7 linked regions of the Homo sapiens genome follow. The protein of the gene in region 1 purifies or fractionates together with the protein of each later gene. This does not show direct contact. Each region holds a gene or a part of one and is shown in the gene's direction. Other genes may lie near its edges.

The links.
Region 2: the proteins of CDH13 (region 1) and DSTYK purify together in Homo sapiens (affinity purification with mass spectrometry; 2 studies listed by BioGRID and IntAct, with this or other methods). This does not show direct contact.
Region 3: the proteins of CDH13 (region 1) and SEC14L1 purify together in Homo sapiens (affinity purification with mass spectrometry; 2 studies listed by BioGRID and IntAct, with this or other methods). This does not show direct contact.
Region 4: the proteins of CDH13 (region 1) and PIGU purify together in Homo sapiens (affinity purification with mass spectrometry; one large-scale study listed by BioGRID and IntAct). This does not show direct contact.
Region 5: the proteins of CDH13 (region 1) and TMX4 purify together in Homo sapiens (affinity purification with mass spectrometry; one large-scale study listed by BioGRID and IntAct). This does not show direct contact.
Region 6: the proteins of CDH13 (region 1) and UQCC1 purify together in Homo sapiens (affinity purification with mass spectrometry; one large-scale study listed by BioGRID and IntAct). This does not show direct contact.
Region 7: the proteins of CDH13 (region 1) and ZBTB18 purify together in Homo sapiens (co-immunoprecipitation; one large-scale study listed by IntAct). This does not show direct contact.

Annotation. Positions count from the first base shown.
Region 1 is NC_000016.10:82,625,476-82,629,768, forward strand, and holds the start of CDH13 (cadherin-13 isoform 1 preproprotein), read left to right. Parts: upstream 1-1,493; 5' UTR 1,494-1,582; coding exon of another isoform or gene 1,583-1,617; coding exon 1,618-1,662; intron 1,663-4,293.
Region 2 is NC_000001.11:205,159,703-205,163,202, reverse strand, and holds part of DSTYK (dual serine/threonine and tyrosine protein kinase), read left to right. Parts: intron 1-196; coding exon 197-280; intron 281-990; coding exon 991-1,167; intron 1,168-1,815; coding exon 1,816-1,945; intron 1,946-2,932; coding exon 2,933-3,089; intron 3,090-3,500. UniProt on the Homo sapiens protein: Acts as a positive regulator of ERK phosphorylation downstream of fibroblast growth factor-receptor activation. Involved in the regulation of both caspase-dependent apoptosis and caspase-independent cell death.
Region 3 is NC_000017.11:77,199,969-77,203,468, forward strand, and holds part of SEC14L1 (SEC14-like protein 1), read left to right. Parts: intron 1-515; coding exon 516-705; intron 706-3,500.
Region 4 is NC_000020.11:34,562,093-34,565,592, reverse strand, and holds part of PIGU (GPI-anchor transamidase component PIGU), read left to right. Parts: intron 1-3,500. UniProt on the Homo sapiens protein: Component of the glycosylphosphatidylinositol-anchor (GPI-anchor) transamidase (GPI-T) complex that catalyzes the formation of the linkage between a proprotein and a GPI-anchor and participates in GPI anchored protein biosynthesis.
Region 5 is NC_000020.11:7,995,762-7,999,261, reverse strand, and holds part of TMX4 (thioredoxin-related transmembrane protein 4 precursor), read left to right. Parts: intron 1-3,190; coding exon 3,191-3,236; intron 3,237-3,500.
Region 6 is NC_000020.11:35,349,474-35,352,973, reverse strand, and holds part of UQCC1 (ubiquinol-cytochrome c reductase complex assembly factor 1), read left to right. Parts: intron 1-3,500. UniProt on the Homo sapiens protein: Required for the assembly of the ubiquinol-cytochrome c reductase complex (mitochondrial respiratory chain complex III or cytochrome b-c1 complex). Involved in cytochrome b translation and/or stability.
Region 7 is NC_000001.11:244,054,283-244,057,976, forward strand, and holds the end of ZBTB18 (zinc finger and BTB domain-containing protein 18), read left to right. Parts: coding exon 1-1,088; 3' UTR 1,089-3,194; downstream 3,195-3,694.

The DNA of each region.
Region 1 (4,293 bases):
GACCTTCTGACCAAACAGCAGCCAATGAAGGAATCTTAAAAGGCACATCACTTTATATTTATTCAGTGGTTATGTCATCACTTAATCCTCACCACAACCTTGTGAGTTCAGTAGAATTTGTGTTTTCATTTTATCTGTGAACAAATGGAGGCAGAGAGTTTGAGTAATTTACAAGTAAGTGGCAGATCCGGGGGCTGTGCCTAGACAATGTGGCTCCAGACTCCTTGCCCCTCCCTGCCTTCTGCTGCATCTTGATTGAGTCTAGCCATCTATTTCTTTAACACACACTAATTGCTGTCTCCATGTTCCAGGCCCTGTGCCAGATGCTAGAAATACATCCCCATCCACTGGATCTTGGCATGGTCCATTGCTCAGTGTCCTGCTATGTTACGTGTTACATAATGCATTTATTCCGGTATTTAGCCCATGGAAAATAATGCTGAAAGACATTGTATGCATGTTTCTACAACAAAACTATGTAACTTATGTTTCTTTTATTGCTTTGGCTATCAGGAAGCTCTTATCCAAATCAGAGCAAATACATTAGAATTTGGGCTTGTCATTTCAGTTTGCTGAACTTTTCCTTCTGGCCCAGATTTTCTATTTTGGTTCATAAATTCTATTGCACAAATGTCCTTTATTGTAAAACACCTTAAATTCTTTCTAAGGGAAGGCTGCATGGAAATGATACAGTAAGGTCTTCCCTGCATTTTCTTAGATTCCTATTAGGGAAGGCAGACCTAGATGTCCCTCTTACCCTCAGTCCCAAAGCCCCCCATTTATAAAATCCCTTAAGCAGTGACTACTGCTGTTCTGAGTACCTGGAGGTAGTTCAGAGCTTCTGAAAGGTAACATCCATATACAAAAAGAAGTTCCTTCCGATCCAGATCCCAGCTTTGGTGCCAGATGCACATTTGAGGAGTAGGTGGCTAGTCAGACTCTCACCTGAGCAGTTAATAAAATCTATTGCCCCTTAATGGAATTTTTTCTGCAAGCTCGAATTGATCTGTCATCTTTGTGATTTGTGAGATGGCAGGGAAGCACCAAACACCATCATGACTTGGGCCACAGTGGGGGGAAAAAAGGAAAAAAGAAAAAAAAAATCCACTGCCAAGCCTTGCCAGGCGTAGAAAGGGCTGGAACTGCTGGGGCCATTTTATCTGATTTATTGGAAATAGAGTGGATCTTATTAACATTTTAATAAAGAGAATCTTTTTGCACTAGGCTGGAAGTGGCCGCCAGTCCCCCGTGCAATTCCATTCTCTGGAAAAGTGGAATCAGCTGGCATTGCCCAGCGTGATTTGTGAGGCTGAGCCCCAACAGTCCAAAGAAGCAAATGGGATGCCACCTCCGCGGGGCTCGCTCCTCGCGAGGTGCTCACCCCGTATCTGCCATGCAAAACGAGGGAGCGTTAGGAAGGAATCCGTCTTGTAAAGCCATTGGTCCTGGTCATCAGCCTCTACCCAATGCTTTCGTGATGCTGCTGCTGATCTATTTGGGAAGTTGGCTGGCTGGCGAGGCAGAGCCTCTCCTCAAAGCCTGGCTCCCACGGAAAATATGCTCAGTGCAGCCGCGTGCATGAATGAAAACGCCGCCGGGCGCTTCTAGTCGGACAAAATGCAGCCGAGAACTCCGCTCGTTCTGTGCGTTCTCCTGTCCCAGGTAGGGAAGAGGGGCTGCCGGGCGCGCTCTGCGCCCCGTTTCTGCATTCGGATCGCCCGGCACGGGCAGGGTGAGGGGGCTTTCGGGGGGTCGGGGCCTCCGGTCGCGGCGGCGAAGACAGATCGGGGCTCGGTAGGGAGGTCATTCCGAGCCCAGAGATCCTAGGCACCCCCCACACACAGGCTCCCACTCTGGCGTGCGTGTGTGTGTGTGTGTGTGTGTGTGTGTGTGTGTGTGTGTGTGTACGTTCGTTAACGGGAGGAGGAGAGAGCTCCCAGTCCTTTTTTGCTAGCAGGGGCGACATTCTCGCCCACATCAAGTGGGGTAACTTTGGTTCCCTCCTCCGGAGGCTCGGTGCATTGGAGAAAGACTCAGTTAGAGGCGACTCCAACGAGCCGCGGTTTTCCCCAGCCCAACGCCCAGCGGCCGAAGCGCTGCTCGGGTCCGGATTGCGGGATGCGGGGCTGGAGAGGCCGAGCAGGCACCACCGACTTCCCAGGGCGCCCGGGCCCCCTGGTACAGCCCGGCTGCCCGCTGGAAGGCGCCTCGGGGCAGCAGAGAGCCTCAGCCCGGCTGCTGCTGTCGCTCAAAGGCGCCGGCGCCGGCCGCACCCGCATCGGGGTCCTTTTGCTCCCAGACCCCGGGCCCGAAAGGGCCGGAGCGTGTCCCCCGCCAGGGCGCAGGCCCCAGCCCCCCGCACCCCTATTGTCCAGCCAGCTGGAGCTCCGGCCAGATCCCGGGCTGCCGCCTCTGCTGCCTTCCCTGAGCGGGAGCGGAGCGCAGAGAAAAGTTCAAGCCTTGCCCACCCGGGCTGCAGCTGCTTGTTAACCCTCAGAGCGCCACGGCGCGAGGGAAGGGCACGCCAACCAGGAGAGGGGGCGAGGGAGATGCGGTCCGCCTGCAGTCACCTCTGCACCTCAGAGATTTCGGGAAGTTTGAGTGCAGGAAAGCAGCGCTCCGAGGCCAGGCCTGGGGTGCTGGCCGCTGCGGGGGGCACGCCCTGCGCTGCTCAGGGGCCTGTGGTTTCGGAGAGCACCCCGATCCAGTCCCCCATCGCCTCTCTGGCAGGCGTTGGGACTTGGAGTGAGCTGGCAGCCTGCAAGTGGGTGGATAAGAGCCAGGGCAGGGCAGGGCCGGGCAGAGTAAGGAGGGAAAGAGACAGGGAGTGCCTCAGGGTGCTAGGAATGAGTGTTGAGTTCCTGGCCGGGGTAGAGGCTCAGGTGAGAGTTTGCGGGTGAAAGGCAGGGGAAGGGAGTTGGGTTCCCAGGTAGGGACTGTCTGGGATGGGGAGACTGGTGCAGACTTCTAAGGGAGACCACTGTTAGAGCAATGTTGGGTTTAGACTTTGGAAATGGGCTAACATCTCAGAAATGCAGTGATGGGTGATAGTACCAGGGGAGATTCAAGTGCCCGGCTGCTGAGCCCGCTCCCAAGCTCCTGACTTCTTTCTTGGATATACAGTCCCGATTAAGGACTGCCCAGTTATAGCTCCTTTTCTACCAGGCTTTTCTGGTTGATTATCTTGGGGTCCCTACAGCCTTGAGTCTTGCCATGGATCCCAAGCCTGGCTGTGAACCAGTTTTCCAGATGTCCTGTACCCTAGAGACCCCAAGGCTGTATGTGTGTACATATACCCCAATTTAGCAAGGCGGTTTGGAGCATGCCTCAGACAGAAAGGATTCAGACAGATCCTTCCTGCCATCTGCTAGTGGTACCAACCCGGGCAAGTTGTTTAACCTCTTTGAGCTTCCAAGTTCTCCATTGTAAAATAATCTGCTGCCTTCCTAGGACTGCTGAGTGGATAGGATTGCATTCAACAGGATGTCCTATGCAATGCATGCCAGTCTGGGAGCTGTCGGTGTCTGAGAGCACTTACCATTGCCTTGTCCAGGACTTCACAGTCCTCTTTCTTTCTTGGCAGGTTTCAACCTCAGTTCATATTCCAGGGCTTGCCCAAAGTTATGCCTCCTTTAAAGCAAGACAGACCACGTGACAGGGCCCCAGGATCGATTTTTATGCACTAAGGGCTCTGCGCACGGTTCTTTTTGCAAATGAACTGGTGTGTCTCCTCACCCAGGGCCAGGCTGGCACAGGTGGGTTCTGAAGGCTCACTCTATTTATTTAGATGAAGGAAGCAGAGATTTTGCTGTGAATTGAAATGATTGCCCTGAGAGGCTTATTTCTATTTTCAATTGTTATGCATATCAGAGCAAATGTCCACATTAGGATAGTAATTGATATCCTGGTAGCAATAGTACCTCACAGAGAAATCATTTTGATGCAATCCAGTTAACCAGCAAGAAGTTCACGTGCAGAACTCTGTGTGCCATAGAAAAAAGTGGGGAAAGTCTTCGAGGCCTTGAGTCGACGAGCAAAAACACAACTTTCCTGAGGCAGAGAGAAAACAGAAGGGAAAAACAATGTAATAAAACAAATTAGTCACTCGGCCCTGGTGGTGTTCAGGCAAGCCTGTATGTTTTTTTCCACCACAGTTGTAAAGCATCGGGTCTGGCTTTGGAAGCCATCAATCTCTGTAAGCTTATTGGCTTGGTTGTTGTTTTAGGCATTTTGGTAGGAGGTGAGGAATTCTAAGCAACAATGACTGGAAGCTGGCACCGTTGAACAGTCACC
Region 2 (3,500 bases), on another chromosome or scaffold:
GAATATAAAGATGAGGTAGAAGGGGCTAGATAGTCACAAAATAAATAATCAGCTTAAGTTGACTCTGCATATATATTGAGGGGTAAGTTTGGAAACCCTGAGTCTGGACTGTGTTCTTGAAATAAGTATCATTTATTGCATTTTTAAAATAGCCACACTACTGAGGACATGTTTTCTTTGGCGTTGTCTCTTTCAGATCTTAAATGCTGCCTATCATGTTGAAGTCACGTTTCACTCAGGGTCGTCAGTTACAAGGATGCTATGGGAGCAAATCAAACAGGTAGGGATTATTACTTAGAGAAAGATTTCAAAGCCCCTAGTTGGCTCAAATGAATCATAGTGACCCCAGTAGGAAACAGATATCTAGGATCTTCTGTTAAGGCAGGGTGACCATTTGTTCTGGTTTGCCTGCCTGGGAGAATTCTGGTTTATGCCTATTCTTAAATAATTATTAACATTGTTCCCTTGAACTCTCAGAAGTTTTGGGTTTAAATGATTTTTATGTTGGGTGCTCTTTGTGGACAATGGAAAAATAGAAAAAAAAGATAAATGATATTTCATGGAGCCATAAGACTCTACCACACTAGCTTCTTCATATTTCTTTTTCCCAGCCTAAATCTTTTCTCAGAACTAGGCTTTGTTGTTGCCAGAGGCTGTGAATGTGGTTTCTGTTCTGGAATTTGATCTGGCTCTTATGTAGAGTTATTTACTGACTTCAGAAAGATTATCAGGCACTCCCTGGCACTGAATGTAATATATTGAGGGTTTGTGAGCATGTAGACTAGGCCTGGTGTTCTTTGATGCTTTTCTCTGGGCTAGGACCTGATTTTGTGGTAGATGGAATTGGAAAGGAACTTTGGACTTCGTATGGCTCCCATCTTATGAGCCTGCTCTTAATGAATGGGTAACCCAGAAAAGGAAGGACACTGGATCTTTGTAGTGGTTCTTGTCTCTCATTCCTTGGTGATCTCGCTGTCTTCATCCTGGTAGATCATCCAGCGCATCACATGGGTGAGCCCACCTGCCATCACTCTGGAATGGAAGAGGAAGGTGGCCCAGGAAGCCATTGAGAGCCTCAGCGCCTCCAAATTGGCTAAGAGCATTTGCAGCCAATTCCGGACTCGGCTCAATAGTTCCCACGAGGCTTTTGCAGCCTCCTTGCGGCAGGTTGGTATGTAGGAAAGGAGATACAGCTGGATCAAGCAGAGAAGAGCCTCATCCAGATGGGAATATTTCGCTCTCCGCTCTTCATATATAATATGTGTGTGTGTCTGTGTGTGTATACATATATATACACATATATATACACACACACACATATGTATATTAAAATCATCAGTATATTTTCTTTCTAGATTGTTATAGGAAGTTTTTTCAATAAATTTTTCATGTGGATATTTTCCTAACTCTCGGGAGAATGGAGTGAGCTCAGTTAATTCCTGCCCATTTCAGAGTGAGGAAAGATAATAGGAGTAGGAATTTTGTATGTTTATATAGTATTTTAGGAACAAATGACAGAAGGACATGACTTTCCAACTTCTATATTTCATAATTGTTTGACATCTGATTGTCCACTGGCGGGGAGTGGGTGTGTCCAGGCAGAGAGTGGATAGATGTGAGTATGCATCCAGGAGGAAAAGTTATTATTTATTGAGAGTCTACTCTGTGCCAGTCTCTGTGCTAAACATGTTACATGTATCTTGTTTAATTCTCACAATTATCTATATGAAGTAGATATTATTATCCCTGTATAACAGGTGAGGAAGCTGAAGCTAGGGACTTAAGTCATATGTACTTTTTCTGTTTCTCTCCCAGCTGGAAGCTGGCCACTCAGGCCGGTTAGAGAAAACGGAAGATCTATGGCTGAGGGTTCGGAAAGATCATGCTCCCCGCCTGGCCCGCCTTTCTCTGGAAAGCTGTTCTTTACAGGATGTCTTGCTTCATCGTGAGTCTGGTTTTCTTCTAGATAAACTGGAGGATGGTTCAGGATACCTGACATTCTTATGTCCAGCCTCAGAGAATCCTAGTGTCTAAAGCTGCTTCTTTGCAAAGCTGCCTAAACCCTTACTGATGTTTTTGAATTCCTAAAGTCTCTTCCTGCTATTTATATAGTTCAAATAACATGACCAGGCCAGGTGTGGTGGCTCACACCTGTAATCTTAGTACTTTGGGAGGCTGAGGTGGGTGGACTGCCTGAGCTCAGAAGTTCAAGACCAGCCTAGGCGATATGGCAAGACCCCATCTCTACTAAAAAAATTAGCTGGGCGTGGTGGCACTTTGCAACCCCAGCTCCTCAGGAGGCTCAGGCAGAAGATTCACTTGAACCCAGGAAGTAGAGGTTGCAGTGAGCCAAGATCATACCACTGCACTGCAGCCTGGGTGACAGAGCAAGACTCTGTCTCCAAAAAAAAAAACAACAAAAAACAAAAAACCACATAACCACAGTTTATTTGAATTAAACCAGTTAGATTATTTTCTATTGGGTTAGAATGACACTAGAATTTTATCCCTGGGCTTGATTACAGCTTCCTGACCCTAAAGGCAGGTTCACAATGAAGAATGTTACAGGGCCAGCATGGTGGCTTATGCCTGTAATCCCAGTACTTTGGGAGGCCACGGTGGGTGGATCACTTGAGCCCAGGAGTTCGGGACCACCCTGGGCAATGTGGCAAAACCCCGTCTCTAATAAAACTGTAAAAATTAGCTGTGCGTGGTGGCGTATGCCTGTAATCCCAACTACTTGGGAGCCTGAGGCAGAATAATCGCTTGAACCCAGGAGGCAGAGGTTGCAGTGAGCAGAGATCATGCCACTGCACTCCTGCTTGGGTGACAGAACAAGACTCTGTCTCAAAAAAAAAAAAAAAGAATCTTACAGAGGTTGCCCACGAAGTTCCCATTCCTCCTGCCTTATCTCTGTCTCTGTACCTTATAGGTAAACCTAAACTGGGACAGGAACTGGGCCGGGGCCAGTATGGTGTGGTATACCTGTGTGACAACTGGGGAGGACACTTCCCTTGTGCCCTCAAATCAGTTGTCCCTCCAGATGAGAAGCACTGGAATGATCTGGCTTTGGAATTTCACTATATGAGGTGGGTCCTGGCCTCATTCATCTCTATGAGAAAGATCCAGAGAAGAATCTAGAACCCTGGTTTAGATTTTGTACCAAGAGCTACAGCATGGCCTCTCTATATTTAGTTTTCTGTGTCTAACAGACATGTGCTCCCTTTCAGGCCTTTACTGTCTTTGCTTGCTCTTTCCCCACCATCCTAATTTCTCAGACTCATCATTCCATTTAACTTTCTTCTTTAGTCCTTAAGCCTTATCAGTTTTTAGAATCCAGGATTCTTCATCCTTGTTGAAGAGGCCATGCTCTGTCTGTACTGAGGGCTCTGTCTGCACTGAGGGCCATTACCTCTGGACCTGTCCTAAGCATGGTCTGGAAATTATTGTCTCATACATTGTGGCATGGCATGCAGGATTAGAGCCCAAGCCTTGTAGCC
Region 3 (3,500 bases), on another chromosome or scaffold:
GACCAGCCTGGGCAACATGGGGAAACCACATCTCTACAAATACAAAAATGAGCTGGGCGTGGTGGCGTGTGCCTGTGGTTCCAGCTGCTCAGGAGGCTGAGGTGGGAGGATTGCCTAAGCCCAGTAGTTGGGGGCTGCAGTGAGCTGAGATCATGCCACAACACTCCAGCCTGGGTGGCAGAATAAGAGTCCCTGTCTCCAAAAGAAAAGTGGGAATTTTAGGGTCTTATTCCCTTAGCAACTTTTTTTTTAGGGCAGTAATGTGATCTCGGCTCGCTGCAGCCTCCACCTCCCAGGTTCAAGTGATCCGCCTGCTTCAGCCTCCGAGTAGCTGGGATTACAGGCATGCACCACCATGCCTGGCTGATTTTTGTATTTTTAGTAGAGATGGCATTTCACCATATTGGCCAGGCTGGTCTTGAACTCCTGAGCTCAAGCGATCCGTCCACCGCAGCCTCCCAAAGTTCCCTTCACAACTTTTAACATTGCTTAGAAATGTCTTTTTCTCTTAATAGATTCCAAAAGATGAGCATATTCTTCGGTTCCTCCGTGCACGGGATTTTAATATTGACAAAGCCAGAGAGATCATGTGTCAGTCTTTGACGTGGAGAAAGCAGCATCAGGTAGACTACATTCTTGAAACCTGGACCCCTCCTCAGGTCCTTCAGGATTACTACGCGGGAGGCTGGCATCATCACGACAAAGGTACCGGATGGAGTTGAAACTGTGTTTCCATCGTTGTCTTGATGTGTGGTTGAAGATATCTTCCAAGGCCTCCTTCCCTGGAGTTGAGTGGGGCCCCCTTGAGTGCATCGTTTCTCCTCACTCTGAGAATTTGGCACCTTTCCCAAGTTGAACAGACTGATACGTGTCACCACGGGCACACTCCCGTCCCGCCCCGGGCAGCCAGGAAGGGCCTGGGACTGCTCTTTCCTCATGGACACACGTCATCCTTGGGCAAATGACTTCACTTGCTCGGTGCAGTACAGTTTGTTTTGACCTATTAAAAAGACAGCAGTGCCTCTGGCAGAGTATTTTCAGTAGTGCAGTGTTAATAAAGGGACTTTTCAATGACTTAAACCCTATGATAGCTTAAAACGGTTCAGCCCGGTTTTCTACATCACAGCCCTGAGCACTTCAGTTCTGCTTTGGGAGTAAGTAAGGCCTGGATGAAGGGGGGCGATGCACCTGAAATGAAGAGTGGTTTAAATGAGAACCTTAAAACACAGTTCCCCCAAATGCCTTCCATACCCTGCCTTGCAGGAAGACCTGCACTGTCAAAAATACACTCTTTCCTGAGCCAAAGTTTGAGAGCCGGGCAGGATGGAATTGGAAACGTCGGCGAGAGGGAAGCACCGTAGAACTGGTTCTTTTACCCTCTGAACAAGTCCTTGCAGAACCGAGCAGCTCAGCTTTGTCTGTGATTATGACTTCATCTTTTGTATTGTTAAAAAGTTTGGTAGTAAGACATTGACAAATGTGTCTTTTTTTTTTTTTTTTGAGACAGAGTCTCGCTCTGTCCCCAAGGCTGGAGTCCAGTGGCAAGATCTCAGCCTACTGCACCCTCCACCTTCCGGGTTCAAGCAATTCTCCCGCCTCAGCCTCCCGAGTAGTTGGGACTACAGGTGTGCACCACCACGCCCGGCTACTTTTTGTATTTTTAGTAGAGATGGGGTTTCACCATATTGGCCAGGCTGGTCTCGAACTCCTGACCTCGTGATCTGCCCACCTTGGCCTCCAAAAGTGCAGGAATTACAGGCGTGAGCCATTGCGCCCGGCCTCAACAAATGTGTCTTATTAAACGTTGGGAGAAACTTTCTGTAAATAGGCCTTTCCGTAAGATTTTGGAGCACATAAAAATGTTTTGCTTTAAGTAGACCAGGTCTAGAGCTAGACTCTCCTGGGAGATGAAGTTCACTAGGTGACAAATACAAGATAAATGTTACCCTCTAACCCTCTGCCCCATGCTGGGACGACACTGCTGGTCTTCTGGTAACCACCGAAGACAAGTCTTGGTTCCTTTTCAGGAGCACAATCGTCTGTATTCCTCCTGCTGCGCCTTCTGGGACTGTGCGGCAGGAGGCTAGGCAGTGCTGACTCTAGGGATACACTATGGCCACCAAGCTCTTTTTCCCCTTTGTGTAGATGGCCCATGATGATAGGGCAGTATGATAGGAGTTAGGCTCCTCTCAGGCGGCACCCATTAGACCTCCAGGCTATAAAGAAGTAGAGTCAGGCCAGGCCCAGTGGCTCATGCCCGTAATCCCAGCATTTTGGGAGGCCAAGGCAGGAGGATGGCTTGGACCCAGGACTTCAAGACTAGCCTGGGCAACACAGTGAGTTGTTGTCTCTACTTAAAAAAAAAGGAGGCTGGGCGCGGTGGCTCACACCTGTAATCCCAGCACTTTGGGAGGCTGAAGCGGGTGGATCACCTGAGATCAGGAGTTCAAGACCATCCTGGCCAGCATGGTGAAACCCCGTCTCTACTAAAAATACAAAAATTAGCTGGGCGTGGTGGCACACACCTGTAGTCCCAGCTATTCGGGAGGCTGAGGCAGGAGAATCGCTTGAACCTGGGAGGCGGAGGTTGCAGTGAGCCGAGATCGTGCCAGTGCACTCCAGCCTGGCGACAGAGCAAGACTTCGTCTCAAATAAAAAACAAAAAAGGAGGCCCAGCACAGTGGCTCACGCCTATAATCCTAGAAGTTTGGGAGGCGGAGGCAGGCGGATTGCCTGAGCTCAGGATTTTGAGACCAGCCTGGGCAACACGGTGAAACCCTGTCTCTAGTAAAATACAAAAAATTAGCCGGGCATGGCAGCGTGCGCCTGTAGTTCCAGCTACTTGGGAGGCTGAGGCAGGAGAATTGCTTGAACCTGCAGGCAGAGGTTGCAGTGAGCTGAGATCGTGCCACTGCACTCCAGCTTGGGTGACAGGGAGAGACTCTCTCTCTAAAAAAAATAAAAAAATAAAAAAAAAAAAAAAACAGAGTAGAGCCAACACAGGCTGCTTGGTGGGGTTTTAAGGATTTTTAGAATGTTCTCATTTGTCTTGGTCCTTAGAGTGGGAATTGAGGGAAGCTGGCTTTTAAAAAGCTTTCATTCAGTTTTTAGTAATCTATGACATGAAAAAAAATGATTTTCTAAGAAAGAAAATTTTAAAAGTACTCTGTAGTCATAGAAAAAGTGTCTGGATAGTTTGATGTTCCCTTGCCGTTGAAAATCAGAGCTCTTGGGCAGCCCCAGTTGTTCAAAGTGAGCCCAGCTTATGGGCAGTTGTTCAGACTGAGCCCAGCACTTATGCAGCTCGAGCTGAGTGAGTCCCAGCCGGATTCCCCTCATCCCGGCACAGCCTTCTATTTCCAGGACCCTGCACAGCTACCCTGTCAGTTGGTTTTTATTTTTCTCGCTTACAGCTTTTTGGGGTAAATATTGGACACACACCCCCTATCACACAAATCAGTTGCCACTTCTAAGAATCAGAAAGACTTTTAAGCGCCCCT
Region 4 (3,500 bases), on another chromosome or scaffold:
TGGGGTCCTAACTGGCACAAAGACTAGAGGAGCCCGGCCGGGCGCGGTGGCTCATGCCTGTAATACCAGCACTGGGAGGCTGAGGTGGGCGGATCATGAGGTCTGGAGATCGAGACCATCCTGGCTATCATGGTGAAACCCCGTCTCTACTAAAAATACAAAAAAAGAAAAAACTAGCCAGGGGTGGTGGCGCACGCTTGTAGTCCCAGCTTTCTCGGGAGGCTGAGGCGGGAGAATCACTTGAACCGCGGAGGTTGCAGTGAGCTGAGATCACACCATTGCACTCCAGCCTGGGTGACAGAGCGAGACTTCGTCTCAAAAAAAAACTAGAGGAGCCCAGCATTGTTGGTAACAAGCTAGAGCCTATTACTGTCATTTTCCAGATGAGGAAAATGCAGCCCAGGGGACAGGAAGAGACTTAATATCACACAGCCGCTGACTCGCCCATGCAAATTCCACAGCCCCTTGCCCAACTCGCCCCTGTCCAGACTGGGCAAAGGGGCTCTGGGTCTGCAGCTGCTGTGTTGGCTGCACCCTAGGGCCTCTGGGAAATCCCTGCTCTCCTCACGGCCCAAATGGAAAGCCCCAAGGTCAGAAGAGGTTGTCCTGGCTACAGGCTTCCCTCTGAAAGGGCCAGGCCTCTCGGCCAGCCTGGTGTCCTCTCCCTGGGGGCAGGGTGCTCACTCAGGACTGATGACACCCAGGGCTGTGTGCCCAAGCCGCTCACAGGGCTCTTCCCGCCACCCCCTTTATCCTCCAGATTTCCACACACACAGCAGAGTTGACAGCTTTAGCATTGGACACCCATATACATACCCACCAGCGGGAGTCCACCATTCACATCTTCAGGTACTTCTTCCATCATCCCTCAGTCCATCTTACTTTTTTAGTGTATTTCAAATTGAAATGCAGACATCAGTACATTTCCTGCTAAATATTTCAGCATGTGTATCATTTTCTTATGTAAAATTTATTATACAGGGAAAAGTGCAAATCTTTTGTGTACATTTGCCAAAGCTCTCTTTCACTCAGCAAAATATTTTGAGTTTGTTACATACAACAATAGGTCATTGCTGTTAATTTTTTTCCTGTTTCAAGAGCTGGAGTTTTGCTCTGTTGCCCAGGTCGACCTCCTGGGCTTAAGGGATCCCCTTGCCTCGGCTTCCCGAGTAGCTGGAATTACAGGCACAAGCCACCATTCCCAGCTAGTTCATTTATTTTTTAAATAAACTTTTTATTTTAGAATCACTTTAGATTTATAGAAAAGTTGCAGAGATAGAACAGAGTTCCTGTAAGCCCCCACCTAGTTGCCTAAGTTGTTAACATCTTATATTTTACCGTGATGTGTTTGTCAAAACTAAGACACTCACCCTGATACGTTACTATTAGTCTGAAACACTAGAATGGATTTGGATTTCCTGTTGTTCCAGTCACAGCCTCTTTCTCTACCAGGACCCCATCGAGAGGTCCACATTACATGTAAGGTCACATCTCCCCAGTGTCTTCTGCTTTTCTTCTTAGTCTTTTCTGACTTCTCATGACCTTGACAGTTGAGGAGCGCTGGCCAGGTATCTTGTAGAATGTCACCCAATTTAGGTTTGTCCCCCAGTTTAGGTTTGTCTGATGCTTTTCTTAGGACTATCCTGGGGTTGTGGGTTTTTAGAAAGAATACCCCAGGCAAAGTGCCCTTCTCATCACATCTATTGGGGTTACATGCTAGCCACGTGATTTCAAGCTGATGTTAACCTCCACCACGTGGTTAAGATAGTGTTGGCCAGGTCTCTCCACTGTAAAGTTACTCTTTTCCCTTTCCCTGCTCCTCAGGAGGAAGTGAGTAACCAAGTCTAGACCCCCCTAGGCTTAGGAGATGCAGAGTGGACAAGAATTAAGCTCCTTCTATGGGAGGGGGATATAACTACCTACATTGTTTGGAATTCTTCTGGAAGGAAGATTTATCTCCCCCCCCCCATTGATGTATTGATTCATTGATTTATTGGCTGATTTGTTTTAATTGAAGCTTTATTTTTTATTATTACTTTTTGAGACGCAGTTTCGCTCTTGTTGCCTAGGCTGGAGTGCAATGGCGCATCTCCGCCTCCCAGGTTCAAACCATTCTCCTGCCTTCAGCCTCCCAAGTAGCTGGGATTACAGGCATGCGCCACCATGCCCGGCTAATTTTGTATTTTTAGTAGAGACGGGGTTTCTCCATGTTGGTCAGGCTGGTCTCGAACTCCCAACCTCAGGTGATCCGCCTGCTTCGGCCTCCCAAAGTGCTGGGATTACAGGCATGAGCCACCGCACCTCGCCGAAGTTTTATTTTTATCAATGGAATACATGTATGTAGTTTGCAAAGTTAAGGCTTATAGGGGAAAAGAATAGCTACCTAAAGTCTTACTGTTATTTCTGTTGGTACTTCTAAATAACATGCTTACTTTTCCATGTGTACGTTTTTCCGTTTTATATTAGGTTGGATCATATGAAATTGCCAGTATTCAACCATTTTTTTATCTGCAAAACTGGCAATTTCATATGGTCCAACCTAATAACCTAATCTTTTTCTTCCTGCTTCTTGTCCAGATGATTATTGTGTGACATGGAGTTGCTTCGTTTTGATTGTTGTGGATTGTGACTGCACCTGCCCCTCAGCTGACCTGGTTCAGGGATCAGCCTCTGAGCTCAGCCCCTGCTTTGGGCTCCTCCTGCCCAGATGGCATCTCGGGCCTGGGTGAGAAAGGGCTGCAGGGTATGAGGTCAGCCTTTGCTGTGATCACTGCCCCCCAGTGGGCCAGCCTGGAGCTGCCAGCTGGGCAGCTGGGGGCAGGGCCTCGGGGGCTGCCTGAGCTCTGTCTGCTTTGCTGACGCTGTGACCAATCTCGTGCTCATCAGTGATCTGGGCCCCAGGCAGACCACCTTTCTGGGTCCATGGCCATTAGTCCAGTGCTCCAGGTGTAGCCTTAGGCCAACCATTGAACCCTTTGAGTCTCAGTTTCCCCATCTGTTTAAGATGAGGATTGTTCAACCTTCCAGATGGGCTTCTGTGGTGATAGAATGGCAGGTACTTGTCCTGAGGCCATCAGAGCTGCTGGTGACAGGACACCTTCCTGAACTCCTCCAGGCGCCTCTGATCTCTCCTTAGCTGCTGTTGTGTTACCTTCAGGTCAGTGAGAAGCTGCCCAGGACAGGGTCTGGAGGTCTAGATCCCAGGCTTAGCTCAACCTGTCTTGCCCCAAGACCATAGCCAAGTGCTCTGTGCCTCAGTCTCCCCATCTGTGCCAGGTGGTTGGTGCCAATCCTCTGAGGCCTCCAGGTGCCTGAGAGCTGCGGTGTCTGTAGTGTGAGCCCCTGTCCCCTCATCCTTCTCTGAGGCTGGGCCCTGCCCAACCTGCTCCAGGGACCAGTGGTCTTGGGAAGCTTGGGCTGACTGGGATTGCAGACTCCGGGTCTGGTGTATAGGGCCCTTGGCAAATCCCTATTCCTTTCTGGGCCTCCTTGAAGAGACA
Region 5 (3,500 bases), on another chromosome or scaffold:
GCAAACTGTATAATACTTGGTGAGGTAGATTAGGCCAAACCATAACAGCTTTTTCCACAGTTGGTTTTAGTTTTGAATGGATTGTCATATATATAGATAATTTTATGTTAGTATATACAAGTGTAAGAAATTTCCCTACTGAAAAAGGAGCAAATCAAGCAATATTTCAGGAGTAAATCATCTAGTGGCATCTATATTAATATTAAGGAAACACATAGCTTACTCTAAAAACAACTCTCACATTTCATTCTACAACCATTTGAGCACTGATTTAGCCAGATACTTTCCTAGGTGCTAGGTATTCAACACTGAACAAGACAGACATTCACCTCAGGTACAGAGAATCATAGTTGGGATGAGGGTGGATAAAAAACACAACAACATATTTTACAAAGATGGGATAGCTCTGGGGTTATGGACCTGCTCTTCTAGATGGAGGGAGTAGGAGACATTTCTCTGAAGGGACGCCTCTAGGTGAGATCTGAATGATAGAAGGAACTAGCTTAGGCAAAGAGCAGAGGGAAGATTATTCCCAGGAATGGGTATGGCATATGCATAAGCCCCAGTTTGGAAAGGAGCTTGGTGTACTTAAGGAGCAGAATGGTGACCAGGGTCAAGCATAGTGAAAGGGAATGTAGGATGAGCTGAGTAAGAGGGGCAGGCTGAAGCCAGGTCATGCAGGGCCTGTGGCCACAGGAAAGAAGTTGGAAGTGATCAGCACACACAAGGAGAAGGTGACCCTTAGGAGAGGAGATTGGAGAGGGCAAGAATGGATGAAGTGAGTTGAGGCTTAGAGTGGTAGCTTGTGTCAGGTGGCAGCAGTGGGGATGTGGGGATGGAGAGGCTGAGTGGATTTTAAATATGTTATGAAGGTAGGCTTGGCCAAGGTGAAGGAGAAGAAGGATTCATTAATAAAAACTTACAAGTTTCTGGTTTGAGTACATGATGGATCTTGGTACTTGTTATTGCCTTGGGCAAGAGAAAATTAAGGATTCTGTATAAATCTTGTTGGGTTTGAGATGCAGACTTTGTAGAACTGTCACAGTGGATGCTGTATTAGTCCATTCTTGCATTGCTATAAAGGAATACTTGAGACTGGGTAATTTATAAAGAAAAGATGTTTAATTGGCTCATGGTTCTACAGGCTGTACAGGAAGGATGATGCTGGCATCTGCTTGGCTTCTGGGGAGGCTTCAGGAAACTTATAATCATGGTGGAAGGCGAAGGGGAAGCACATAACATCACATGGCCAGAGTAGGAGCAAGAGAGAAGGATGGAGGTGCCACACACTGTTAAACAACCAAATCTCCTGAGAGATCACTCATTATCAAGAGAATAGCACCAAGTGGATGGTGCTAAACTATTCATGAGAATCCGCCCCCATGATCCACTCTCTTTCCACCAGACCCCACCTCCAGCATTAGGGATTACAATTTGTTAGGAATAATGCTTACAATTTTAAGAAATTGAACACTTGAACAAAGGATATTTAGCAAAGCAATTTTATTTTTGCGCAGAGAGGTGCCTTTTTGGCCAGTCGCCATGAGAGCACACTTGAACAAAGGAGTACGAGAGCCTTTATTTTTGACGCAAGTCTTGCCCCTGTATCCTTTTTTTATTGGCTGGGGTCAGGTGTATAAACTAATTTTAGTTGGCTAAACATTTGAATTTTTTTAGATAAGGTGGGCACATAGAAGAAAGAGGAAAGGGGAAAGGGTGTCTGTAGTGAGTCAGAAAGTTGTTTTTTTTTTTTTAAATAAGGAAAGGAATGTGAGTTGGTACTGATAATGGCTGGTATTGTGGCATGCCTGCGCATTTAACAAAGGCAGAAAGGAAAAAGGAAAAAAAGAGGGGGTGGTTAACTCTGAATTAAAAGATTGATTAGGCTATTTGAAGGGAAACCTTATCATATCTCACAAATTGAACATACGATTTGGGTGGGGATACAGATTCAAAGCATATCAGATGCATGGAAATGGGTCCCCATGAAGAATTCAGGAACACAAAAAAACCTACAGACAATGTTGAGGTGAGGGGAACACCTAGAAAGAAGGAAAAAGAGAAGAGTACTTGGGGATGAGTCATGGGCCACCCCCAAATTAAGAAACTGTGTTGAGAAGTCAGCCAAAGGAAACTGAAAATGAGTACCAGAGAGGCAACATGAAAACCAAGGTCTGCCATTTTCCAGAAGCCAAATGAGTGTTCAAGAAGAAGGGCGTAGTCTCTTGTATCCCATGTTACTAAGAGGCGAAGGGAGATCAGGTCTGAGACATGGACATTGAATGAAACATGGTGAGGTCATCATGGCCTTGACAATCTGTTCCTGTAGTGGTGAGGGTGGAAGCCAGATTTTAATCGATTAAAGGTACAGTAGAGAAGAAACAGCATGTGTAGAGTAATCTGGAGAAATTTATCTGTGAAGCTGGAGGGTCATGTGAGGTCCAGGGATACTCTTTTTAAAGGGTAAAAGAGAGTAGAGCATGTTCATATGCCAGTGAGACTGTTCTAGGAGAGAGAGAGAAGTTGCTCGTGCAGGAAGGGAGGATGAGAGAAAGAACCAAGTCCTAATAAGACAAAATGGATAGGATCCAAGGCACAAGTGGAGGAATTGGACTGTGATAAGAGAGTTAGACTTTTCCTGTCATAACAAGAGAAGGTGGATGCAGGTGGACACCAGGCTCAGATTTGGTAGTGGGAAGATGAGAGAAAGCACATGGTGGCTTCTGATTTCACAGTGACATATGAGGAGTGCTTGTTAGCTGAGTACATGGGGATGGGAAGATGTGTACGTTTTGAAGAGAAGGAAAAGGAAATGAGCTATTTTCTTAGAGCTTAGAAAGTGCTGGACAGTATTACGTGTCCACTTAGGTTTGGGACTATGAAGCAGAAAGAACTGTCATCTGGTTATGTGATGTTTTTTCCCTGGAGACATTCAGCTGCTCAGTGTTGAGATTTTTGCCGGGTAGGCACAATGAAAGGAGAAAGGGCCAAGGAGTTGGAATAGATTTACAGCAGAGTGATTCAAATGATAGCCACTGAATCTAAGCTCTGTAAGAACAGATATGAATCTGGGAGAGGGGGCAATATTTAGCAAGAAGTGGAGGGAAATAGACCAGTCCTCCTGACCTGATTTTCATTTTTTTTTTATAGTATATATGATCACTGTTTCTTCTCTTTATTTTTTTTTAAGGATGTCTGGAATGGCTGGTCTTTTTAGCATCTCTGGCAAGATATGGGTAAGTAATCTTAAATAAAACGTTTATATTTGCAGAGAGGTTAAGAATAAAAATACAGCTTTTAAGCAATAGGAAAACAAACATTTATAAGTACATTTATAATTTCACTTTTTTTCTTAAGCCATGCAACTACTCTCATGTGGGGTTTCCAGTGGTAATGTCGTCATGTAGAAGGGCATAATCTGAACAGTAACCTGTAACTACTGTGTCGAGGTCTTATTTTCTTAAATCAGTGGTGAAGTCTTTCATCCAAGCAAAACGGCT
Region 6 (3,500 bases), on another chromosome or scaffold:
GCGCAGTGGCTCGTGCCTGTATCTTAGCACTTTGGGAGGCCAAGGTAGATCACTTGAGCCCAGGAATTCGAGACCAGCCTGGGCAAGATGGTGAGACCCTGCCTCTACAAAAAAATTTAAAAAATTAGCCGGGCTCAGTGGCGTGCACCCGTAGTCCTAGCTACTTAGGATGCCGAGGCAGGAGGATAGCTTGAGTCCAAGAGTTTGAGGTTACAGTGAGATGTGATTGTATCACAGCACTGCAGTCTGGGTGACAAAGTGAGAACCTGTCTCTGAAAAAAACAAAAACCAAACTGTGACTCAAACACTCACATTAGCCTAGGCCTCTACCAGGTCAGGATCATCTAGACCAGGTGATAGGAATTTTTCTGCTCCATTATAATCTTATGGGACCACTCTCATATGTGTGGTCTCTTGCTGACCAAAATTGTTATGTGGTACATGACTATATTCACCAAATTTGTCCTTTTCCAGCCCTGGTGATATTTGTATATTTAATTATAGGATTGAGGCTGGGAAGAAAAGGTTAACTTCTCAGAGACTCATCTCCGGTCAGTGCTAAGGAGCGAATCTTCTTCCAGTAGCTGGCCACTCTCTGCTGAGCAAAGTCCATACTTTTTCTTAGCAAGTCATTTCAAAGCTCTTCATGACCTTTCTGGCTTCAGTTTTCTGCATCCTATACCCTGTCCTCCCCACAATCTAGGTATTCATTGTTACCTTAACATCCTGAACTCTTCCATGGCCCTGCCTTTGCTTAGAACATTCCATCAGCTGGACATTCCCTTTGTCTTTTGTCTCAACCTCTTCAACTTCAGCTTATCCTTCTAAGATCCAGGTACAGTGTTTCATTTTCCATGAAGCTTTCTCTGATTCTACTCAGCCAAAAGTCATCCTTTTAAACTTCATTGCACTCTTCTCTTGGGAGATCTATGGCATTCCCTTTTAGGGCTGTTGATGTGTGGTGTACCTTATCTCCCCTAGAGGAAACTGCTCCATAAAAGCTGGGTTCTAGTTTTAGCCATCACTATAATCCCCACAGCATCCAACCATACACCTTCACACAATAGGAACTCCTGTGTTCATTGAGTGAATTGTCAGTCACCATTTTGAAAGTGTCTTCATTTTGCCTTATCTTTTCAACTGGATAACCATTTGAGCCCACTGTTATCTGTAAGGGCTATAGAACAAACTGTGTTGTGAAACAAAAAACACTTCATCCCATGTTGATACAGTTAGAAAGTTTATGGTCTGAGAAAATCTGTGCCTTTTAAACCTCAGAGGGCAGGTGTATTAACAAACTACAGAATTTTCAAATAAATGAAGAATTCCATTACCTCACTATTGCTGTTGATGAATTGGCCTCTGACAACACTTAAGCATCAAAACACACAGCGTCTTTTCAGGTGAGAGGCTGACATGAGGGATTTGATTAACTTTAGAAAAGTCTTATGAAAAAGGACTGTTGAACTTTTCCCCAGTTTGTTTCTGCTGTGGAATAGGCTCTGTGTCCTATAAAGTAGCCAAATCTTTTTTCTGTGACCTGTTTCATTATTGTCACAAAGTGCTTTTTTTTTTTTTTTTTGAGATGGAGTCTTGCCCTGTTGCCCAGGCTGGAGTGCAGTGGCGTGATCTTTGACTTACTGCAATCTCTGCCTCCCGGGTTCAAGAGATTCTCCTGCCGCAGTGTCTCGAGTAGCTGGGATTACAGGCACGCGCCACCATACCTGGCTAATTTTTGTATTTTTAGTAGAAACAGGGTTTCACCACATTGGCCAGGCTGGTCTTGAACTCTTGACCTCAAGTAATCCGCTCACCTCAGCCTCCCAAAGTGCTGGGATTACAGGTGTAAGCCACCACACCCAGCCTACAAAGTGCTATTTCTTAAGCACTACCTGGGGTCAGAGGTTACAGGTTTTTTGTTTTTTTGTTTTGAGACAAGAGTCTTGCTCTTTTGACCAGGCTGGAGTGCAGTGGCGCGATCTTGGCCCACTGCAACCTCCACCCCTCGGGTTCAAGCAATTGTCCTGTCTCAGCTTCCCAAGTAGCTGGGACTACAGGTTTGTACCACCACGCCCGGTTAATTTTTTGTATTTTTGGGAGAGACGGGGTTTCACCATGTTGGTCAGGCTGGTCTTGAACTCCTGACCTCAGGTGATCCACCCACCTCGGCCTCCCAAAGTGTTGGAATTACAGGTGTGAGCCACTGCGCCTGGCCTACAAGTTTCGAATCACATCAGTAAATCTCATTTGGGATCATGTAGTCAGCCTTCTTTTTATTTTCAGATGGAATCTCACTCTGTCGCCCAGGCTGGAGTGCAGTGGTGCGATCTTGGCACTGCAACCTCTGCCTCCTGGGTTCAAGCATTTCTCCTGCCTCAGCCTCTGGAGTAGCTGGATTACAAGCGCACACCACCACACCTGGCTAATTTTTGTGTTTTTGGTAGAGATGGGGTTTCACCATGTTGGACAGGTTGGTCTCGAACTCCTGACCTCAGGTGATCCACTGGCCTTGGCCTCCCAAAGTGCTAGGATTACAGGTGTGAGCCACTGCACCTGGTCATGTTGTCAACCTTCTGTCAGATACCCGAGTTCCCACCAAGCGTTGATTCACTTCTCCGTGACAGACAAATTCTCTACTTTTTGAGGTTGTCAGTTTGATTATTCAAATCTTCAGACACTCAGGCCAGGCACAGTGGCTCATGCCTATAATCCCAGGGCTTTGGGAGGCCGAGGTGGAAGGATGGCTTGAGTCCAAGAATTTGAAGTTACAGTGGGCTATGATTGTGTCACTGCACTCCAGCCTGGGTGACAGAGCAAGACCCTGTCTCTAAAATTAAAAAAACAAAACTTTAGACATTCCTGTTAGTAAGCTTTTAATTTTGCTGTTCAATGTTGATTATATCTTTCTCCCTCTATGGCCTGCCCATTGGTTCTGATTCTAACTCTTTGGTTTTGTTTGTTTGTTTGTTTGTTTGTTTGTTGAGACAGGGTCTCACTCCATTACCCAGACTGGAGTTCAGTGGCACCATCGTGGCTCACTGCAGCCTTGACCTTTTGGGAGGGATCCTCCTGCCTCAGCCTCCTGAGTAGCTGGGACTACAGGCATGCACCACGGCACCTGACTAATTTTCATATTTTTTGTAGAATCGGGGTCCAACTGTGTTGCCCAGGTTGGTCTCAAACATCTGGGCTCAAGTGATTTTCCTGCCTTGGCCTCCCAAATGCTGGGATTATAGGTGTGAACCACCAGGCCTGACCTGATTCTCTTTGGTAAACAGTTTAATTGCTTTTCTACAATGTTTAAGTCAACTTTCCTGTTTTTCTCCAGGTTAAATATCTTCTGGTCTTCTTAAGATACTTCTAGTCCTCCTATTTCTTAAAATGTAATGTTCAAAACTGTGGATAGTATTCCAAATACGTTCTGGTTTGTGTTGAGTATAACAAAAGTCTCACTTTACACATTGATGGTATTATATTTGCATTACTGTATCTAAAATCAC
Region 7 (3,694 bases), on another chromosome or scaffold:
AAGGAGAAGATGAAAAATTGAACATCCTGCCCAGCAAAAGGGACTTGGCGGCCGAGCCTGGGAACATGTGGATGCGATTGCCCTCAGACTCAGCAGGCATCCCCCAGGCTGGCGGAGAGGCAGAGCCACACGCCACAGCAGCTGGAAAAACAGTAGCCAGCCCCTGCAGCTCAACAGAGTCTTTGTCCCAGAGGTCTGTCACCTCCGTGAGGGATTCGGCAGATGTTGACTGTGTGCTGGACCTGTCTGTCAAGTCCAGCCTTTCAGGAGTTGAAAATCTGAACAGCTCTTATTTCTCTTCACAGGACGTGCTGAGAAGCAACCTGGTGCAGGTGAAGGTGGAGAAAGAGGCTTCCTGTGATGAGAGTGATGTTGGCACTAATGACTATGACATGGAACATAGCACTGTGAAAGAAAGTGTGAGCACTAATAACAGGGTACAGTATGAGCCGGCCCATCTGGCTCCCCTGAGGGAGGACTCGGTCTTGAGGGAGCTGGACCGGGAGGACAAAGCCAGTGATGATGAGATGATGACCCCAGAGAGCGAGCGTGTCCAGGTGGAGGGAGGCATGGAGAGCAGTCTGCTCCCCTACGTCTCCAACATCCTGAGCCCCGCGGGCCAGATCTTCATGTGCCCCCTGTGCAACAAGGTCTTCCCCAGCCCCCACATCCTGCAGATCCACCTGAGCACGCACTTCCGCGAGCAGGACGGCATCCGCAGCAAGCCCGCCGCCGATGTCAACGTGCCCACGTGCTCGCTGTGTGGGAAGACTTTCTCTTGCATGTACACCCTCAAGCGCCACGAGAGGACTCACTCGGGGGAGAAGCCCTACACATGCACCCAGTGCGGCAAGAGCTTCCAGTACTCGCACAACCTGAGCCGCCATGCCGTGGTGCACACCCGCGAGAAGCCGCACGCCTGCAAGTGGTGCGAGCGCAGGTTCACGCAGTCCGGGGACCTGTACAGACACATTCGCAAGTTCCACTGTGAGTTGGTGAACTCCTTGTCGGTCAAAAGCGAAGCACTGAGCTTGCCTACTGTCAGAGACTGGACCTTAGAAGATAGCTCTCAAGAACTTTGGAAATAATTTTATATATATATAAATAATATATATATATATACATATATATAAATAGATCTCTATATAGTTGTGGTACGGTCTAAAAGCAGTCTTGTTTCCTGGAAATAAAAAGTTGGGATATTAACTTGTTTTTGCACTTTAGAATAGCATGAGAATCTCACTAATTTAGCATTCTGATAAAAGAAACTTTAGAGCAAGTCAGAATAGAGAGGTGTTTTTCCTTTGAGGGGATAGGGGAAGTAAGCCAATAAGAACCTTTTAAACAAATCGTCCTGTCACAAAATGCTTTCATATGGCTTAATTTTGTCAACACTGCATTGTCTTTTGAGCTCTTTTTTCCCCCCCAACAAAGTTTTTTTGTTTTTTGTTTTTTTTTTTAAGTAGAAATTCCCTCCAGTTTTATTAGCCTCTTTATATGTCTCAAATTGCATGAATTTTTTCTGGCTGTTGGAAACCTGAATGCTTTTAGACCCAAATGGAAAATTTCTGAAATGCTGGATTATCTATTTTTAAACAAGCAGTTGACTTAAAACTTTCTGTGGCAACTTCTGGTTTTCTGACAGTTCCCAGTGAGAGAAATGCTGAAAGTACACTGGGATCACTGGGACACTGTCTTATGAAGGTTTGCTTGGGATGAAAAAGGATATTGCAGCTTCAGCAGTGTTGAACTGTGTGTTTAAAAATGTGAATTACTGTTATTGTATACTGTAATTGATTACATGGGCTGGGGGGGTGTCAAAGAACTTGACAGGTTGTGTTGATGCTCTTAGTTGAGTCTTGAAAAGTAAATATTAACGCTACAGAAATGCATGAGTTTCAATATATTTTTTGTCTTTGTTTGCATTGTATAACTTTAACGAGTGAGTTTAAAATTATTTAATTTCCTTAGAAAAATAACACCATTTGGAAAAAAAAACTGGTGTTATGAAGAACGTAAATGCACTGTTTTTATTTTTATTTTATATAATTTAAATTGACTTTCCCACTGTCTTTAAGTTGAAACTGTTAAGCTGAATAAAAACTTAAGCTGCAAATTGATAACTTCGCTACATAACAAGGAAAATATAAATGTTTACAAACAGCTTAAAGATTTGCATGTGCAGTGTGCATTTATAACAAACTTCTAATTGCACAAAACCCATGCCAGCTCAGAGTTTAGGTGTACACATTTACCCAGTTGAGCGTTCTTAGAATAACTACTGCACAAGTTGACAATAGGTCGTTCTCTCTTTTTTTTTGTTTGCTCCCTTTTTCTTTTTCTCCCCTTCCTCCTTACCCTCCCTCCCTTACTCTCCCCCCCCACCACCACCCTCCACCCCCAACTCATGAAAAGATTCTATGGACTGAAAAAGCCCCAGGCTGAAAGGACTGGACTGCCTTGATTGACATGGGGAAGGGGGTTAGTAGACTATGTGGATTGCGGCAGCAGAGGCTGCAGCCTAACGTGTGGTTTTAATGACCAGCACGCAAGGCAAAAGCATTTTGCACAGTGTTTGTTTTCCTGTCTTGCACTTACAAATAAGGTCTATGGGAGTAGCATGGAAAACGTTTGCTGTTTTTCCCTTTTTTTTTTAATTGCTTTTGTTTAAAATTTGATCGCCTTAACTACTGTAAACATAGCCTATTTTTGTGCTTAAGATACTGAATGGAAAACTCCATTGTGTGTTGCTGGACTGTTTTGGAAATATTTGGTTAAATGTGTGTTAATTTGGCTGTAATGGCATTTAAAGCAAACAAACAAACAAAAAAAGCTGTGAAAATGGCCTTGGAGCATTATCTTTAGTTACTTGAAGAGTTTCTAGTTTTTTTAAAATACAGTTTATGTTAAAATAATTTTTATTAATTTAGAGAAGACAATCAATGTCTGTGAGAAAACGGACTTTCTTTTGGATTTTCTTTTTGTGGTCATTGTGAGTGATTGCTTTTTCCTTTTCTTAGTTTCACATTCTTCCTTTGTTCTAAAACTTAGACTGACATCTAGCTTTGACAATCATAGTATGTTTTATTTTCCTGAGGGGGAATAACTTATAATGCTGTTTAGTTTTGTACTATTGGTGTGTTGGTGAATTTTTAAACTGTGTGCTAACTGCAATAAATTATATGAACTGAGAATTTCTTGTGTGTATTTTTTATTGTGATTATGTAGTGTATAGATTCTAAATATGTATCATACCTGGCATCTTTAATATCAATTCTATTCGGAGTTTATGAAATTATTAGAATGCCTTAAATCACTCGAGTGGAAAATGTGTAAGCATTCTAGTCACTTAAGAAGATACTAAATGCACATTTAAAAAATGCGACCCATTTTCACAATCTACATCAAGAATGTTGAGGTAATTCCCTAGAAACTCATGAATCATGAAACTACGTGGCAGCATAGGTTGTTAAAAATACACTGTACAACTACTAATCCATATACCGTAAGTCACTTTTCGTGTGTAATTTTATCCTAAGTTGATCGGTCAAATCTATTCTCCTGTGTTCTGGTTTAAGTGGAAAATTGAAGGAGACCGGATGTTTTAATTTGGAAGACTGCTTGGCTAATGACTGGAATTCTAGGCAATTGAATTAGCAGGCATGCAATTGTTCACGATTAGCTATATACATCC